Homo sapiens: one gene and its partners. The protein of the gene in region 2 interacts with the protein of the main gene of each other region in a biochemical or structural test. Each region holds a gene or a part of one and is shown on either strand. Other genes may lie near its edges.

Evidence for each region.
Region 1: the proteins of ABCG2 (region 2) and ENPP1 form a complex in vitro, tested with the Homo sapiens proteins (one study listed by IntAct).
Region 3: of the proteins of ABCG2 (region 2) and RNF126, one has a biochemical effect on the other in vitro, tested with the Homo sapiens proteins (one study listed by BioGRID).

What each region holds. Positions count from the first base shown.
Region 1 is NC_000006.12:131,880,991-131,884,744, forward strand, and holds part of ENPP1 (ectonucleotide pyrophosphatase/phosphodiesterase family member 1), read left to right. Parts: intron 1-1,354; coding exon 1,355-1,484; intron 1,485-2,703; coding exon 2,704-2,784; intron 2,785-3,754. UniProt on the Homo sapiens protein: Nucleotide pyrophosphatase that generates diphosphate (PPi) and functions in bone mineralization and soft tissue calcification by regulating pyrophosphate levels.
Region 2 is NC_000004.12:88,089,626-88,092,650, forward strand, and holds the end of ABCG2 (broad substrate specificity ATP-binding cassette transporter ABCG2), read right to left. Parts: intron 2,757-3,025; coding exon 2,609-2,756; 3' UTR 644-2,608; downstream 1-643.
Region 3 is NC_000019.10:656,575-660,328, forward strand, and holds part of RNF126 (E3 ubiquitin-protein ligase RNF126), read right to left. Parts: intron 1-3,754. UniProt on the Homo sapiens protein: E3 ubiquitin-protein ligase that mediates ubiquitination oF target proteins. Depending on the associated E2 ligase, mediates 'Lys-27'-, 'Lys-29'-, 'Lys-48'- and/or 'Lys-63'-linked polyubiquitination of substrates.

The DNA of each region.
Region 1 (3,754 bases), on a different chromosome or scaffold from region 2:
GAGAGAAGGGGGAAGATGAGATTTTGATCTTACGTGGAATTGAAATTTTAAACTGGGCTGAAACTGAAAGTGACTGGCAAGGTACAGGATGCCCTAAGGGAACGACAAAGGGATTTGAGAGAGCATAGTGGAGGGCAGCAGTTTGATTTAAAAAATAAAATGATTTTTACTAATCAGTGAGACAACCAAATAAAAAGATAGGGATATGTCTGTTTATATATAATTTCTATGTTACAAATATATAATACACACATATATTTATATAAAATTTCTTGAACTTTGATTTTTAAAATTTTTCAATACTGTCTTCAAACACCAAACACTTAAAAAAATTTTTGACTTTGTAATTGATCAGTCTACACCATTTTTCATAGGCACCCCATCCTATTTATTAATATTTATACCTTAATTATGGGTTCCTTGATTCCATTTTCAGTTTTCTTATGTAATTAAAATGCATAACTTTACAGTCATTGCGATGCTTGAGGTTTTTACATTGCTGTTCGGTGACTGTCCTCCTTTGCTCCAGCAACTTTTGGCAGTGTAGTTGACTATGGAAGATAGACTCAGATCTCTAAAAATCAACATTTTACTATATAAAAGCTTAAAATTGACCAGCGCGGTGGCTCACGCCTGTAATCCCAACACTTTGGGGGGCTGAGGAGGGCAGATCACGAGGTCAGGAGTTCGAGACCATCCTGGCTAACATGGTGAAACCCTGTCTCTACTAAAAATACAAAAAATTAGCCAGGCGTGGTGGGTCACACCTGTAATCCCAGCACTTTGAGGGGGCTGCAGCGGATGGATCACCTGAGGTCAGGAGCTCAAGACCAGCCTTGCCAACATGGTGAAACCCCATCTCTACCAAAAACACAAAAATTAGCCAGGCGTGGTGGCAGATGCCTGTAGTCCCAGCTACTCGGGAAGCTGAGGCAGGAGAATCGCTTGAACCTGGGGGGCAGAGTTGCGGTGAGCCGAGATTGCGCCGCTGCCCTCTAGTCTGGGTGACAGAGTGAGACTCCATCTTAAAAAAATAATAATAATAAATAAATAAATAAATAAATAAATATTTAAAATTGTGTAGATAAAATCATTCTAAACATTATTTCATATTAGCATAGCAGAATCTGAAAATATTTGCATAAATATGACAATTAATATCTTTAATATTGTAAAGCATTTTTACACTTTAGTTAGAAAAAAAGATGAATATACTAGTAGGAAAATAGGGAAGGACATGAGCTGACAGCTAGAGCTTCATAATTTTATGATGTAGTTCACCTTTAAATATTAATAAAGCAATTTTCTTCTCTGTGCCTGATATCTGAGAGTTCTTCTCATTTTCGTTCTTCAGGACAGTTTCTCTACGGAAGACTTCTCCAACTGTCTGTACCAGGACTTTAGAATTCCTCTTAGTCCTGTCCATAAATGTTCATTTTATAAAAATAACACCAAAGTGAGTTACGGGTTCCTCTCCCCACCACGTAAGTTTTTTCCTCTCCTGACCTTCCCTTTTCTCCTTTTTGTTTTCTTTCTTGTTTATAAATCCTACCATACATTATAGGGTAATATATATATTACCTATTATATATATATAAATATTACCTATTTTATATATATATTATATATATAATATATATAAAGTATATATATTACTATTTTATATATATATAGCTATATATATATAGCTTTGTTTATTTATTGGTGAAAAATTGTGGATTTGGTCTAGAACTACCAAGGGAAAAATTTTAATCATCTAAAACTTGAATTTTATAAAATTTTCTTTTTGTTGGGAGGGTAGTTGATGTAGTGCAGATATGGTAAGCAGAACACTTCATGGTTCCTTTCTGCATTTCTTTTAAACAATTTGAGAATATTGTGAAGGTGGAATATATATATCAAGTTGGAAGAATATATCAAGGTTCTTAGGAAGATAACTTTGTTAGGATAAATAACTTTGTTGTTTAAAAAGAAAATGCGTTTGTCAGAGAAGTAGGTAAAGGTAGAGGCTTACATATGCTTGCTTTTTCACTGATCCAGAATCTCTAGGGAATGGCTTTTTTGAAGCTAAGTATTCTATTTTTTGAAATGGCAAATTTGTATGTTGATGAGAAGCCATTTTGGGGCCAGCCTTAAAAGGCAAAAATCAGAAAGCTCCAGGTGCTCAACTACCGTCAGCATCCAGTTCAGTTCCCAGAGTATGTGTCTGAAGTCAGAACTTGGCTATTGCATTATAAAAATAGACCAGGTCCAAGCCTCAAATTCATACAGAGAAGCCTTGTATGGTGTTTCGAGACAGACATCCTGTGATGTTTTTTCTGGGTAGCAGGTGTTGTTCTGGAGCCAGATGTTCTCTTTTTTCTTTTCACTGTGAAAAAGTGTAAGGAAAGAAGATTGTCAACACAATTCCTTTTAGTTGAAATGAGGGCAATAACGTTTGAATATGTTTAATTTGGGGCTCTTGTTATTAAAGTTTATGTTTCGTTGACATGCTCATCTTGAAAAGACTTCTTAAATATTTTATTTTTGTAAAGGACTTGACCAAACACATTACATTTTCCCTTGACCCTGTACTTGGGAAAGTTTTACAGGTTTAAGATGGTACTCAGCTAATTTTTAAAAATGCTCCCCTAACCATGAGAAACTATAATTTCCTATGTTATTTGTGAAGAATGAAAAAGTTGTCCTCTTTTCTCTTTGTAGAACTAAATAAAAATTCAAGTGGAATATATTCTGAAGCTTTGCTTACTACAAATATAGTGCCAATGTACCAGAGTTTTCAAGGTAAATAATGTTAACTCTATATTTGATAATTTTAATGAATTTGTGCACATATAGGCATAATTCATATGTAATAGGACTTATGGTCTAAATTAAATGAATTAATACCAAATACATTCTTAAAGGTTTAACTTTGAGAATACTAGTACACAAAAATTCTACAAATTATTAGAATTATCATGTATTCTAATTGTATAATTGTTTGCAAACAGTTTTGGTGAGAAAGTATGTGATGCGCTTCCTAAAGTTATCCAGCTAATACAGTCTGCTAACACTTATATTAACTTTCATTCGGCTTCCTTATTTAACTTTTTGGAAGTTCTTGATAATTGTCTATGTTTTCAAATGAATAGATTTTACATCATCATTAACTATTGCAGCATTTGACTTTTACAGGAATAAAAATTTAGTTACTTAAATTGATGTATAGAATATCAAAATATAAGCATATAAGGAGTTTTTAGTCTAATTTATATCTAGAATACTTGTGAATATTTCAAAGTTAATATTCAGATATTAATAGGAAATCGGAATAATATGCCTTGTTTGTGTTTGCGATGTTGCTATGCTTAATGATGACATATGATCACAATTTCAACATGATGTACTTGTTCAGGGATGTCTCAAAGAGAGTTGGGTTCAACGTTTGTCTGTGAGTCCTTTCAAAGGCCAAAGCTGAACAATGAATTTTTGGCCTCACACTAAGATTAGAGCCAAGGCTGGGTGTGGTGGCTCATGCTTGCAGTCCCAGCCCTTTGGGGAGTCCAACTCAGAAGGACTGCTTGAGGCCAGGAGTTCAAGATCAGCCTGGGAAACAGTGAGATCTGGTGTCTAGTCTCTACAAAAAATTTTAATTAGCTGGGCATGGTGATGTGCACCTGTAGTCCTAGCTATTCTGGAGACTGAGGCAGGAGCATCTCTTGACCCCAGGAGTTTGAGGCTGCAGTGAGCTATGATTGTGCCACTGCACTCC
Region 2 (3,025 bases):
TTACTTAAGGATATACATACCCATATATAAGATATAAATTATATATACATTATATATATAATTATATAGATAGAAATTATATATAGGATATAATATATAGAGAGGATATAAAAATACAGAGAATATATATAATATATAGGGTACATATAATATATATGGATATCTATATCCTTAAGTACATTTCTACTTTATAAGAAAATAAACCATACTTTAAAAAAAGTTCCTGGCCAGGCGCGCTGGCTCAGGCCTGTAATCCCAGCACTTTGGGAGGCCGAAGCGGGTGGATCACGAGGTCAGGAGATGGAGACCATCCTGACTAACACAGTGAAACCCTGTCTCTACTAAAAATACAAAAAAAAAAAAATTAGCCGGGCGTGGTAGCGGGAGCCTGTAGTCCCAGCCATTACAGGCTGAGGCAGGAGAATGGCATGAACCCGGGAGGCGGAGCTTGCAGTGAGCCGAGATCGCGCCACTGCACCACAGCCTGGGCGACAAAGCGAGACTCTATCTCAAAAAAAAAAAAAAAAAAAAAGTCCTTAATTTTAAAATGGTTAAGATGGTAAATTTTATGTTATCTGGTTCCTACCACAACAAAAGCATATAAAGGTAATTTTAATATAAAAAAAGAATACATAAAATAGGATATAATTAAATTCTCATTTATTTAAAAAGTTAATAATTGTGGCTGTTTTGTTTCTTTTGAAGTATATTTTGTGTAAAAAGTATAGATAGATATTTCTCTCTGTGTAATAAGGGAAGGGTATATATAGAGAACTGTAAGGGACAGGTATGTGAAAAGCAGGAATTATACCAAGAACAGGAAAAACTGATTAATCTTCCTGATCACATAACCAAGAAAAAAGATAATGTGTTCCAAGATGACGCATTAATCAAATGTCATCCAAAAAGAAAAAAGTTCAAAGATAAAAATATAATGCCATGTTCCCAAATTGATGTTGTGACAGAATGTCAGGGCACCCACTGACAAACTAAATGAATTCCAAGATGACCAGTGTCAGGGCGTCTATACACCATGATGCCCCAGCTCAGTTAACTCCTGTAAGTGCTGAAAAGTATTTACTTTTAAAAAAGAGGGCTAGATGAAATGTGGTCTCCTGAATTGAATCCTAGAACAATGAAAGAATATTAGTGGAAAAGTGGTGAAATCTGAATATTGTGTGCAGTTTAATTAACAGTGATTGTACCAATGTTAACTTGTTAGCTTTGACAAATGCATCTTGCTATATAAAATGTTAACATTAAGGGAAGCTGAGCAAAGAGTAGACAGGAACTTTCCTCACTATCTTTGCAACTTTTCTGTCAATCTAAAATTATTTCCAAATTAAAAGTTTATTAAAAAGTGGGGAGATAATTAAGTATCAACCTATGCACACAGAAACACAACACTTGGCTGTAGCAATGTTCTCATAACAGCAACAGAGGGAAATACATCAAGTGTCATTTCAAAAATAACCCAGGGGTAAGGAAGGAAGTAGTGACTGGGAGAATGGCTGAGTAGGCTTTTGTGTGCTACAATCTTCTATTTCTTGACCTGAATTGATGGTTGCACATGTGTGTTCATTTTAATTCACTGAACTATATTTTTTGGTACATTACCCTTCAACTAAAAAAATAAAATTAAAACATTTCCCTATTACTGATGAAGGTTAGAATGAAGAGAACATAAGGTATATAAGTAGGAAAGAAAACCTATGTAGGGACAGATGTTAATAGTTATTAAATCCTAAGTAAAATTTTCAGAACTTGGAAATTACCAAATCCAGGAGTGGTCAGATTCCTTTATGAAGGTAGATCTGGAGCTACTTAGGCCAGATTTTTGTATTTTAGCAAAGTTCCTCAGATGATTCTGACGCACACCTGGATTATAAACCACTAAACCACTGAACTACCCCAAGAAGGTTACGTGACCTCCCAGAGCTAGAATGTTCCAGAAATGGTGCAAGAATTCTATTACTGGACTCCTGGCCCTCTACTCTACCCACAGTTCCAAACCCTCAGCCAAGATTCCTGAGATATTATACCACTAGACAGGAATATCAGTAAGTTCTATTAACTTTAATGTGCTTATCAAAAAGATTTTTTTTCTATCACGGTGGCTTTTTTTACCCTATAAGACAGAATCTTTTTTCCAACATATTTTCAATTTTACATTTCCAGTATAGCATTAATACATTTGTCATTTATTAAATAATGGCAAACCATAGCATCATAAAGTATTAAGACTGAAGGGCTACTAACCTACCTATTCATTTTAAAGATGAGGAAACAAATGCCAGAGACAGTAATAACTTGTCAGGAGTTTCCAGAATTCAATTCTCCTTTTTTAGATTAATAAATTAGACCAGATTTCTTCCCCATGGTTACTGTCTGAGGAGATTAACTAATATGCGATACATGATGTCTTGGGTTCTTTCATGTTTAATTCAGTTTGTTGTGATTTCTAAAAATGTATCTCTTTAAAACAATTGCTGCTGTGCAACAGTGTGATGGCAAGGGAACAGAAAACAACAAAAAAACTTGATTGAATACTTCAATCAAAGTGCTTCTTTTTTATGTGAGGATAAATCATACTGAATTAAGGGGAAATTTAAGAATATTTTTTAAGAAATAACAATTTCAGGTAGGCAATTGTGAGGAAAATAACAATCATACAAGCCAAGGCCACGTGATTCTTCCACAAGCCCCAGGGTGAGAGATCGATGCCCTGCTTTACCAAATATTCTTCGCCAGTACATCTGAAATTAAACAGAAAAAGAATATAACTTCATTCCTAGCATCCGTCAAATGTTACTCAGTATATCCACTGTTCCTTAAAGGAGCCTAAAATTGAACCAAGCCTTTAATAATTACCCCTTCAGATATCATAGCTAACAGTCATTGTGTGTTTACAATTTTGCTAGACACTAACAAACAACATGGACCTAACTTAGTTAATTCCTAAAACAATCCAATGTGATAGACATTGTACACACTTAAAAGATGAGGGGACTAACGTTTAAGGAAC
Region 3 (3,754 bases), on a different chromosome or scaffold from region 2:
CAGGCAGAGGTTGCAGTGAGCCGAGATCATACCACTGCACTCCAGCCTGGGCCACAGAGTGAGACCGTGTCAGAAAAAGAAAAAGAAAAAGGGAAAGGGGAAGGGGAAGCAGCCAACGACCACCACTGTGGCCCTGAGCTTAGTGTGGGAGCAGTGTGGCTCTGCCACAGTGGCCGTGACAACTCTCCCCAGGCGTCGGTTCTTGGGGTGTGTTTGGGGTGTCGGGATTGGGACGCCCCACGTAAACACGCTGAGACTTCACAGTCAAATCTGAACCCCTGGTTTCTGCCGGTGTCGGGTCTATCGGGGCTCCTCTGGGCTCAGGGGTTGCCGCCGTCCGCCCGCCAGCTGACCGGGAGCCCAGGGCCGCTCCATCGCCTGGGTGGGTCTCTGGGAATGGAGGGGTAGCTCAGGGCTCAGGCTCTCCCTGCATGGTGACTCCCCAGGCTAGCACCACCCAGTGGACCTGGAACAGCTGCACTGGCCCCCACTGAGGGCAGGACGTAAGTCAGCTGTGCAGCTGCCCCGACCACCATCTCTCCTGCTGGGTGCATCCACAAGGTCAGGCAGCCCCAGAAGGGCCTGAGGGAGAAGCTGTCTCCCTCTGAGGACCCTGGCTTGCCAGCCCCAGCCCCGAATCTCTCCTGGACAAGCACGAGGCCCTGCACACGCCCACGTGGCCTGGCACAGCGCTCGGCCGCTCTGGTCCCCATGTGCCGAGCTCAGCCCCTCTGTGCATCACTGGCTTTCTGTCGGGCTCCCGGGTTCCCGTCTCAGTCCAGGGCACAACGCATGCTCCCGCCACCCGCACTGCCGGCTCACGACAGCCCGACCTGGCCACATACACACTCATCTGCCCCAGCCCTGGCCTCCTCTTGGCCCCCGCTGTCCTGCCCGCAGCGGCCGTGGGGCCTGGTGCCACAGCACTGTCCAGAACCCTCTCTCTGCAGCACCCACTCCAGCGTCGGGGCCTGTGCACGTCGGCCCTGCTGCTGGAACGCCCACCCTAGGGGTTTCAAAGGTCACCTCTCTGCTCCAAGCCTCTGCCCTGTCACAGAGGACAGCCTGGACACTCACTCATATCTGAAATCCGGGTGCCATCGAGGACGCCAAGGGCTGCGACCCAACTCCTGCGTATTGTCAGGGCTCTGGGCTGTCTCTCAGGCCCCCGGCCAGCCCCTCCAGGGCCACCGAAGGCCGGAACCGAGGCTCTGGTCACGAAGGCAAGTGACAGGTGGATCCCGGATATCCAGGGTGGAGGTTGAGCCTCTGCTGGCCGACGGTGGGAGGGGCTGGACCTGGGGGTCTCCAGCCGCCCTCCTCCTCCAAGGGCACAGCCAAGAGACCGCTTGGTCTCGTATTAAATCGGGGCAGCTGCAGGTAGAAACGCCTGGGCAAGGGGGCCTGGTGAAGGAGCTGCCCCACCTTCTCCGGGGGCAGCACGCACTGGGGGCCCCCACAGAGGCCCCATTGGAGCCTCTGGCCCTAGCAGAAGACGGTGAATCCATTCACCTCTCCGTCAGAGAACAGATGCAGGAGGTACGATCACCCGGCATCATCACCATAGCAACAGCTGGCCAGGCAGCCAGGGTAGGGGGGACCCTGCCAGTGCCGGGCTCCACCCATGCACCCCTGCAGCGTGATGGCCTCATCCCCGGGTGGGACCTGGCAGGGCAGCAGAGGCCCCTTCATCCACGGGGCCTGCACGGGGCGCATGTCCTGAGGGCCCAGGGCCAGGCGCATGGAGGGGAGTGGGCTGGCGACCTACAGGCCCCAGATGACTGACAGTGACCAGGGCAGGCAGGCCCCTGGTGACAGTGACTCGGCCCCTGTGGGTGGCAGGGCCCTCGGGAAGCTGTGCACATCAGGAGACCCCAGGGAGAGTCATGGTGCAGTGCTCGGCCTCGGTAGGAGCCCCCGTGCTGGCTACTGTTTTCCTAAAGGGTGCCCAAAGCTTCCCGGCTGATCCACAGTGTGTGGGCCCCGCAGCCCCAGAGGCACGGGCACGTGCGGCGCCTGCACCCCTTTCTTCCCGCCCTCAGCAGCTGCCACCACATCCCACATTCACACCGTCTGTCCCTGGGCCCCACGCACCACACACTCCCAAGACAAGCTGGATGGACGAGGCGTGAGCGAAGCCACTGCCTCAGCCCAGGCTGGGGCCCCGCCTCACACCCCAGGGCGTGCCTCGGCCCAGGCCCCGAACTCTGCCTTCTTCTTCCCAGGTGGCTTCAGGCACCACCACTAGGGACTGGAACCCCACAGGTGCCCATCCGTGCCAGTGCCAGGGGTGCTACGGCTCGCCCGAGGCTCAGAGGAAGGTCCTCATGGTGGCAGAGTTCTAAGTGGGAGGAAATTCAGCACCGGCATCTGCCCGAGGCAGACCCCAGCGCCAGCCGGCCAGAGAGGGCAGCCGACATCCACAGGTTCCCGGGGTATTGCTGGTGCCCGATCACAACGCCAGGCTCCATGTTCACAGGGTGCTGCAGGGAGCCCGTTCCGGAGAACCCAGCTGTGCAGAGCCGCTCCAGGGTGCTGGCCGGACGCTTGAGAGGCAGGGGCAGGCTGTCACTGTCACGGTATCTGGCACAACCGCAGACACACAGAGCAAGCAGCGGCCAGAGACAGACCCAGGCCGTCTTCTGAAGACTCGGGCCAGGCCGCCGCAGGGACCAGGAGAAGACAGGGTGGGCCGGGGGGCAGCTGGGGAGACTTCCCGCCTGGCCCCATCAGTGACACTGGCCGTAGCAGCCCTCACTTCCTGGTGGCTCCCCGCCCACGCCGGCTCTTCCCCGCCACCGTGGGCGGCAGGGCCCAGCACCCCCACCGTCCTCTCACCGCCACTTGGGGACACTGCGGAGGTTGCAGGCGTTCGGGGGTGGGGGGTCGGCAGGCAGAGCTGGAACCACCCTAGGAACCACCCAGAGACGGGGAGGTCAGGGGCAAGGACGGCACGCAGGGCCACCTCCCTGCGCCCGCCTGGTTCCTGGGGGCTCAGTGCCCTCAGCAGCTCTCGCCCACACCCTACAGTCACAGCTCCAGTCAGTGCCTCCTCAGCAGGCTCGAGTCTGGGTCTGCGCAGCCGCCTGTGGCCTGAGCTCCAGCTGGCCTGTCTGGTTCCTGCCGCCACACGCCCCACTCTGGCTGACGCTCCCTTTGCTGCTCAGACACCCAGACACCCTCGTCATCGCCTTTTTTTTTTTTTTTTGGAAGGAGTCTTGCTCTGTCACCCAGGCTGGACTGCAGTGGCACAATCTCGGCTCACTGCAACCTCCGCCTTCCAGGTTCAAGCAATTCTCCCGCCTCAGCCTCCTAAGTCACTGGGACTACAGGTGCCTGCCACCACGCCTGGCCAATCTTTTGTATTTTTAGTAGGGATGGGGTTTTACCATGTTAGCCAGGCTGGTCTCGAACTCCTGACCTCAGGTGATCCGTCCACCTCAGCCTCCCAAAGCGATGGGACCACAGGCGTGAGCCACCGCGCTCGGCCTCATCACAGCCTTTCATGGGGGCAACTGCTGCCCCTGTGCCGTCGTCGCCTGAGCCCCCGACCGCAAGTGTGGCTCCCCGCTCAGGACACCCTCACGAGTCACCAGGAGAGCGGCCAGGTGCCGGCCACTCTGCACACACGTGCCCACCAGATGCCACGGGGAGCGAATCGCATCACTAAACCCACTTGGCAGGTGAGGAGACTGAGGCCAAGGCTGCCCAGCAGAGAATGACCCAGCTGCGCGGGGCCTCAGCCTGATCCCAG